Linked DNA regions of Homo sapiens. The protein of the gene in region 1 interacts with the protein of each later gene in a pairwise test. Each region holds a gene or a part of one and is shown in the gene's direction. Other genes may lie near its edges.

The links.
Region 2: the proteins of INSIG2 (region 1) and NEMP1 interact in binary tests that used the Homo sapiens proteins (3 or more experiments, as listed by UniProt).

Annotation. Positions count from the first base shown.
Region 1 is NC_000002.12:118,098,423-118,102,174, forward strand, and holds part of INSIG2 (insulin-induced gene 2 protein), read left to right. Parts: intron 1-3,752. UniProt on the Homo sapiens protein: Oxysterol-binding protein that mediates feedback control of cholesterol synthesis by controlling both endoplasmic reticulum to Golgi transport of SCAP and degradation of HMGCR.
Region 2 is NC_000012.12:57,058,184-57,061,935, reverse strand, and holds part of NEMP1 (nuclear envelope integral membrane protein 1 isoform a precursor), read left to right. Parts: intron 1-990; coding exon 991-1,164; intron 1,165-1,876; coding exon 1,877-2,057; 3' UTR 2,058-3,752. UniProt on the Homo sapiens protein: Together with EMD, contributes to nuclear envelope stiffness in germ cells. Required for female fertility. Essential for normal erythropoiesis. Required for efficient nuclear envelope opening and enucleation during the late stages of erythroblast maturation.

The DNA of each region.
Region 1 (3,752 bases):
AAAGAAAACCAGTGAGCCCAGGGTCCCAGAGCCAGTGAGTGGTGTGACTGGGTCCACATGTCACATGCTGGGGAAGGGAAAAGGAAGCTACTCACACTTTTCCCCCTACTCAGGATGCCACTTTTCAAGCCTCCAGACTGGGTGCCAGACCTAGATGGAATTCCCTGGCGTGTGTTGTGCATTTGGGCTGGGGCAGGAGAACTTAACTGAGGTTTCATTGTACCTCCACTATGAAGAGTAACAGGGCTGCACCTGCTGTCTTGTCCTTCTGCCCCTTTAATGTCAGCACTTTTGCCATAAACTTACATTTTAGGAAGGAAAATTTCAAATGCTAATACCACAGTTCAGCCACTACTTTCCTTCCTGTTCCCAGCCACTAGGTTTGTCACACTTACAAACTTAACCTCATTTGGGGAATTTGCATTTACATTTCTTGCTTAAGTATTTCTTCTGAAAGCAGTTTGTACCATAAGGTACTTGGGCAAAAGAAAGTAGAGAGACATTAGGAAATCTAGATTCCAGCCAATTCTGCTACCAATTTTGTTAGTTAAGTCATGGTGTTTAGTAGATGAGAGTGAAAGATATCAGATTTGTCCAAGTTGCCAGAGATGGAAAATGGATTCTCTCAAAATCTCTGCTCTGCCATCCCCTGCATCATTATTTTAGGGAAAGTATCATGGGAAAAGAAGTAAATGATTTAAGAAACATAGTGTGTTTGAGTTTGTGTGTGTATGTAATATGCATATGTTTTTGTGTATATGTGTTGGCGTGGATTTTCAAGACCTCGCTAGGGTCTTACCATCTTAAGTCAGAAAAACTGATAATCATCCTTTGATTTTCCTGTTCAACTAACATTCATAGATAGAGCAGCCACCTTTTGGAGGGGCTCCAGAATCACCACCTTCTGTGTGTAGAAAGTGCTCCTTGTTATTTGCCACCTTTCTCTATAGCACAATCCTGGAAAATTTGCTAGTGGTGGTTCTGGTGGGACAACTAATAGAGAACTTTGGTAAACTAATTTTGATGACTTTTTTTTCTTAATTCCATATTTTTAGTTTGATAATGCTGATGTTACAAGTTAACTTCCTTATGTGTGCCATGCACCAGAATTGGAATTAGAAATCTTTTCAGCATTATTGAGGGCCACAAAGAAATCTTTCTAAAGAATAAATAGAAAAAGACAACTCGTGTGGATAAAATAAGTAGAGAAGTTGCCTCAAAAATCACAAGTAGCCTGGTTGTGTCCAAACGTATGAAAATAATATCTAATGTAAAAAGAAAAGAAAAATCTTTCCTGTTTAGCTGTGCAGTCCCTTGCCCTATTCCTGTAGAGCCTTGTAAGATTCCTTGCTTTCTCTCCCGTTCTACATCCAGTTTCCAAGTCTTACATCTTTCCTCTGTCTCTTTCTTGGTCCATCCCTCAATGGCTGTGCTTGGAGTCTTTAGTCTTTGCCGGCCTCTAGTTTTGCACCCACCCTTTTCTCAGCCCCCTTGTATGGTACCCTCACTGCTAAGAAGATGGCCTCTCTCTGGTACAACAGTGATGACATTGTTTTCCTGATTGCCCATTGTCTGCAGGGTAAAGTCTTTATAATATGGCCCTTGACTGCTTTTTTCTTCTTCAGAGTCTTTCTGGACCCTGCAGCTCCCTTTGTGTCTGAAGCTTACAGCTTCCTCTTAACACCAGCAGTTTCCAGTTTTCCATGAATGTCCTCAGCCACCTCCCTTTAATGAGAGCACTATTTCTGCGCCATTTACTGCTGAATGCTCCTGCCTCAAGGGTCACCTCTTTCCGTGAAGCTTTTCTGACAGCCCAGCACCTTGCCTTCCCCTAGCACAGGCAAGGAGAAGCCTGGGACCCCTCTGTCCTGTCAGCTGCCCTTAATGCAGGATTGTATTTAATTGTTTCTGTGGTCACTTTGCAATTGGAATCGTATCTTACTCTTTTGCCTTTTTTTTTTTTTTTTTTTTTTTGAGACGGAGTCTCACTCCGTCACCTGGGCTGGAGTGCAGTGGCGCCATCTCGGCTTACTGCAACCTCCACCTCCCAGCTTCAAGCGATTCTCCTGCCTCAGCCTTCCGAGTAGCTGGGATTACAGGCGCCCACCACTACGTCCAGCTATTTTTTTGTATTTTTAGTGGAGACAGGTTTTCACCATGTTGGCCGGGCTGGTCTCAAACTCCTGACCTCGCGATTCGCCTGCCTCGGCCTCTCAAAGTGCTGGGATTACAGGTGTGAGCCACCACGCCTGGCCTTACCTTTTTAAATCTCCAGCAAATACCAAGAACCAGACATATTGTCAGGGCTTAAGTATTTGTTGAAGGAAAATATTATCTTATAGTTTTGCGTCGAAGTATACCTCATGGAGTGTTTTCGTTTATTCAGTTCCTGTTTTCTTACAAAATGTCTGACTTTAACTGTGTTCCTTTTAGTGCCTCCCTGCATTTAAGCACATTCCCATAAAAAAGTGATGACTTACTACTGATATTTTACAAACTTCTTTAGTGTTTAGCTTTGGTAGACTGTAACTAGTCACTGGGAAATAACTTAAAGGTATCACAAGAAATGTGATTTTTGCATCAGAGAACCATTTGATTTATAAGCAGGATTGTGTTTGCATATGATTTTACACAGGCATGATTTTAACAGTCTTTCTTGTTTTTTTTAAAAAAAAGTACAAGAAGAGGAAAAGAGGCCCAGACATACTCTGTTGAGCTCTCAAACAGTGGAACCTCACAGTGTTGTATATATTGCTATCAGACTCTGCCATGCCTTTATTTAAAGGAAAGAAAGAAGACATTTAATGGGAAGTGACAAGCTTCTTCGAATTCTCCCTCTCAGTGAGCAACTGAGAACCATGCATACTCAATGGATTTGATTTTTATTGGCAAATCCCAGGGTTGGCAGTGTGGCAGTTTAAATTTCTTTTTGTGTTTTTGCTTTCTCTCCTCAGTTGTCTCTCACTTGCAAGTCTGACATCACATGCATAAAAATATAGTCGATTTTACTTATTTATACCTTTGCACATACATGTCAGTATTCTCTATGTAATAATTCTTTACCTAGGCATCAGTTGCTCAGGAAAATTGACTTGGAATGTCTGCTCTTAGTTGACTTTACTCAGCAACAGGCAAAGGGAGGATATATATGGTGGGGGGATGGGGGTGACAAATGAGCTGTTAGTTTTATGACCCCTTGAGAAAAAAAGAGGTGATATTCGTTTAACTACATTTCAACTGTTAGGGATGCTTGTTGCCATTTTATTTGTATAGAAATTTTAAAATCCTGTCAGTTAATCTTGTCAGGATTTTGGAGCAGATTTTTAAATAGGAATATAGTGTGAAACTTCTAGATTTACTAATAGTTATTGGAGCTCTGCATTGCCGAGATATGTTCTTAATCTCTTGATGTTCTGTGAGCCATCTATACTCAGCACATGCCTAACTCAAAAGAGTTGTGGACTAGAAAATGCATACAGTATTGCAGCATCTCATCTCGAGATAGAAGGGTGGTCACACAGCCTTTTTCAAATGCTGCACCATTGGTCTGCTAGGCTGTGATTTTTGATACTAATTGGTTTCTGTTTTTCTTCGAAGAGTGAATGCATTGCCTGTGAGATACAGCTGGCTAATACTGGGTAGGGGGAGGGCCTCTTGTCCCTCAGGCACTTAGATTTTGGCGTTGTAATTTCATGATTCCTCTTAAGTGGTATTGGTTATTTTAAACATGCTTTTCAACTGATGTGACAGTA
Region 2 (3,752 bases), on another chromosome or scaffold:
CCTCTGCCTCCTGGGTTTAAGCGATTCTCCTGCCTCAGCCTCCTGAGTAGCTGGGGTTACAGGTACATGCCACCATGCCCAGCTAATTTTTGCATTTTTATAGTAGAGATGGCGTTTCACTATGTTGGCCAGGATAGTCTCAATCTTGACCTTGTGATCTGCCCACCTTGGCCTCCCAAAGTGCTGGGATTACAGGTGTGAGCCACCTTGCCCGGCGTTTTTTTTTGTTTTTTTTTTTTTTTGAGATGGAGTTTTGCTCTTGTTGCCCAGGCTGGAGTGCAATGGCATGATCTCGGCTCACTGCAACCTCCGCCTCCCTGGTTCAAGCGATTGTCCTGCCTCAGCCTCCCGAATAGCTGGGATTACAGGTATGCACCACCATGCCTGGCTAATTTTGTATTTTTAGTAGAGATGGGGTTCCTCTGTGTTGGTCAGGTTGATCTCCAACTCCTGACCTCAGGTGATCTGCCTGCCTTGGCCTCCCAAAGTGCTGGGATTATAGGCGTGAGCCACTGTGCCTGGCTAGAACCACAGTCTTATACCATGATTTTCTGTTATTTTCCCATCTACTAGAAAATAAGTAAGTATTTTATCATTTATTGGAAAATAAAGTGAGTTTGTTCACATTAGTGAATAATATTGACTATAATTTTTTACTTTCTATAGGCATTTTTATATTTTTATTCTAGTCATTTTATATAAAATAAAAAGGTCTAGTAAAATGTCATGTGTTCCTGTTACCACAAGGTGGTGCAAATTATATCACTTTTTTTTTGAGATGGAGTCTCGCTCTGTCGCCTATGAATTGTCACTCATAGTCTAATGTATCAGGAGTTCATTATAACTAAAGATGTCCATGGAATTTTTAGGAGTGATGACTCTTAATGTTCAGGCTGTCTGCTGTATTCTTGGCCCACTGAAGGGAGCTAGAAGTAAGGATGGATATAGATTACTGATTAATGATTCATAATGTTATTTTGGTGAGCACAGAAAGGTGTGTAAGGGAGCAGAAAAGCCTGTTCCCCCTCGTCTCCTGACAGAAGAAGAATATCGGATACAAGGAGAGGTAGAAACCCGAAAGGCTTTAGAGGAGCTCCGAGAATTTTGTAACAGTCCAGACTGCTCTGCTTGGAAGACTGTTTCTCGAATCCAGTCTCCAAAAAGGTAAACTCGGCCAGATATACCAAGCATCTATCAGGGTAATTGTGACCTTGAGTTCTACCAGAGATCATACTTCTAGAGAATCGTGCACTTGTGACCTTTGTTTTCCTGTTAATCTTCAAGTAGTCAAGAGAAGGGTGGATATATAATCACACATTAAGCAGTAACCTGTTTCCTCAGGGAACTATCTACTCTAGCTTTGATTGTAGCATTAAGATGGGAAGACTCCAGTACCATATTAAGTTTCCCTTCTGAAAGTTTTGCATTGCTGTCTGAGTTGGTAGGGTTCCCCCCTACCCACTTTTTAGTTGGGGGCAAATGTACCAATGAGTATGTGAAGCTTCAATTTGGAATCATGATGGCATAAAGTTTACAGGGCCATAAACGTGAATAACTGTAATGCCCCTTAATCTTCTCTTATCAGGATTACAGATGACTAAAGGAACCTTGGCACTTTCATAATTAGAAAGGATAGGCAAGTGCTTATTAAGCAGGATGGAGTTGCAGGGGTATTAGCCTATGATCCCAGCTTTCCTTTTCTCCTTAACTTCATGCTTTAGTCTACTTACCTGCCAGAGTAAGGACAAGGATGTTGGCTAGACTTAATATAATTTGAGTTGCGAGCATATCGAGGGCTTTAATTTGTTCTTATTTTGAAAGAAGACCAGAAAGGACAGAAGGATATTTCTAACGAGTATTATCTTCTCTTTTCCAGATTTGCTGACTTTGTGGAAGGCTCTTCCCACCTCACGCCAAATGAAGTTTCTGTCCATGAGCAGGAGTATGGATTAGGGAGCATTATTGCCCAGGATGAAATCTATGAGGAAGCATCCTCTGAGGAGGAGGACTCATATTCTCGGTGTCCTGCTATCACACAGAACAACTTTCTAACCTAGGTAGTGGTCAGTTATCTTTACGTGGACTGGCTTGGTGCCTTGGTCCATGTTGCATGTGTTGTGCAATTGCTTTCAACCCTTTGAAACAGAGTGAGATAGATAGGGTAGAAATTCTCCTACTGAAATAAGAGGCCTAAAAAGGCCTCCCTTTGGAAATGGGAGGTCTCTATGGGATCCCTGAGGAAGGAGAGTGGATAAAGTAGTGAATGCTGGGTAGTTCACTTCCCATTGGTTAAGCTAACAGCCCACTTTTATGTTTCCAGAGAAATTGGATGGCCACAGCTAGCATGGCATTCTAGCTCCTTCTTGAAAGTTGATTCAATCATGGCATTTCTGTCACTGGCTGGCTCTCCAAAGTAAGAACTGTTGTTAAGTGCAGGAATGCTTTTAGACTATAGGCTGCAACTTCCAGAGAGAAATCCACAAATCTGAGCCTCCTTCACTCCAGCTTTTATTTCAGTGACTTTAGAATAATTATTGATTTAACTGTTTTGGGAGGAAAATAGATTTTTATTGTTTTGTTTTTTAAATGAATGTCTTTTAAAAAACATAACAAACTCATGTTCCAGAACCAGCAAGTGCTCCAGAGTGACACACCCCCTAGGCCCCTACATATTTATTAATATGGATTATCCATTAAAGCCCCAGGAGCTGTTGTTTTAAGCTTTGATTTAGTTCTCATACATATGATAGAAAGTCCTATTTGCCTTTAGGAACATGCCTGTAGGCTCTTCTGCAGGTGAGATGTACTGGGCTTTTTATTATATTCAACTTTCAATTCCATCTTAAAAAACATTTGTATTCTTCTCTTCCCATTCTTCCTTACCCTGCCTTTGCCCTTTCAGGAAGGGTCAGTTCCCTTACCTGTGAACTATGTATGTTCAGAGTAGCATTATTCCTGCTAGCTAGGAGAAGTCATCTTGTTTAGGGGATTTGGATGCTTTTTATACGTTCTCCATTTTCCTGTCATTGGGTCATGTTATCTTTGAGTTGCTATGAAATCAGGAAACTGTCTCCTTTTCCTTTCCCTTCCTTTGTCTACATGCTCTGTCCATTCCTTTCAGCCTTTTCTCACCACCCATACTCCCCCAAATCTGGGTAATTTTTAAGCCTTGAAACTATGTAGTTTCTTGATACACAATTTGTAGTTATGCAGCAGCCACAATTTGCATTGCCAGGAAATAGGCTCCAGGTTATCTTCATGCCTCTGGGTGCTCATTCAGCTGTCAAGTTTCCATGAACTTACACTTATTTATGATTGCGTTTCTGACCTGAGATGTATGCTGCCTGTTATTGCAGTAGCATTAGTTTCAGATTCTTTTGCCATTGCAAAGTACCCCTTATAAACCAGCAATGTCATCTGTGAGGAAGCAAATTCTCAAGTGTCTGTCATTTACTTGGTTCTTTTTCTTTGTGGTCTTCACCCTTATACCCTGGAAAAGTCTGTAATTACCTTAGCCAGGAAGATAGATGGTCATGGCAAGCGCACAGCACCAGACTTACTGGCTCACCAAGATGATGGAAAAAGGCAGATGATTTTTTAAAAAGCCGTAATGACTCCTTTAGACCAGCCATTTAGCGTGGTAATTTTGAAAGGCCTAGCTCCATTGCAGACTTCCAAAGGGTCAGCTCTGAGACTGCCCTCCAGGTGGGCAGTTGATTATTTCCACCAGTGTTTTCCAGAGCCTTAAACTG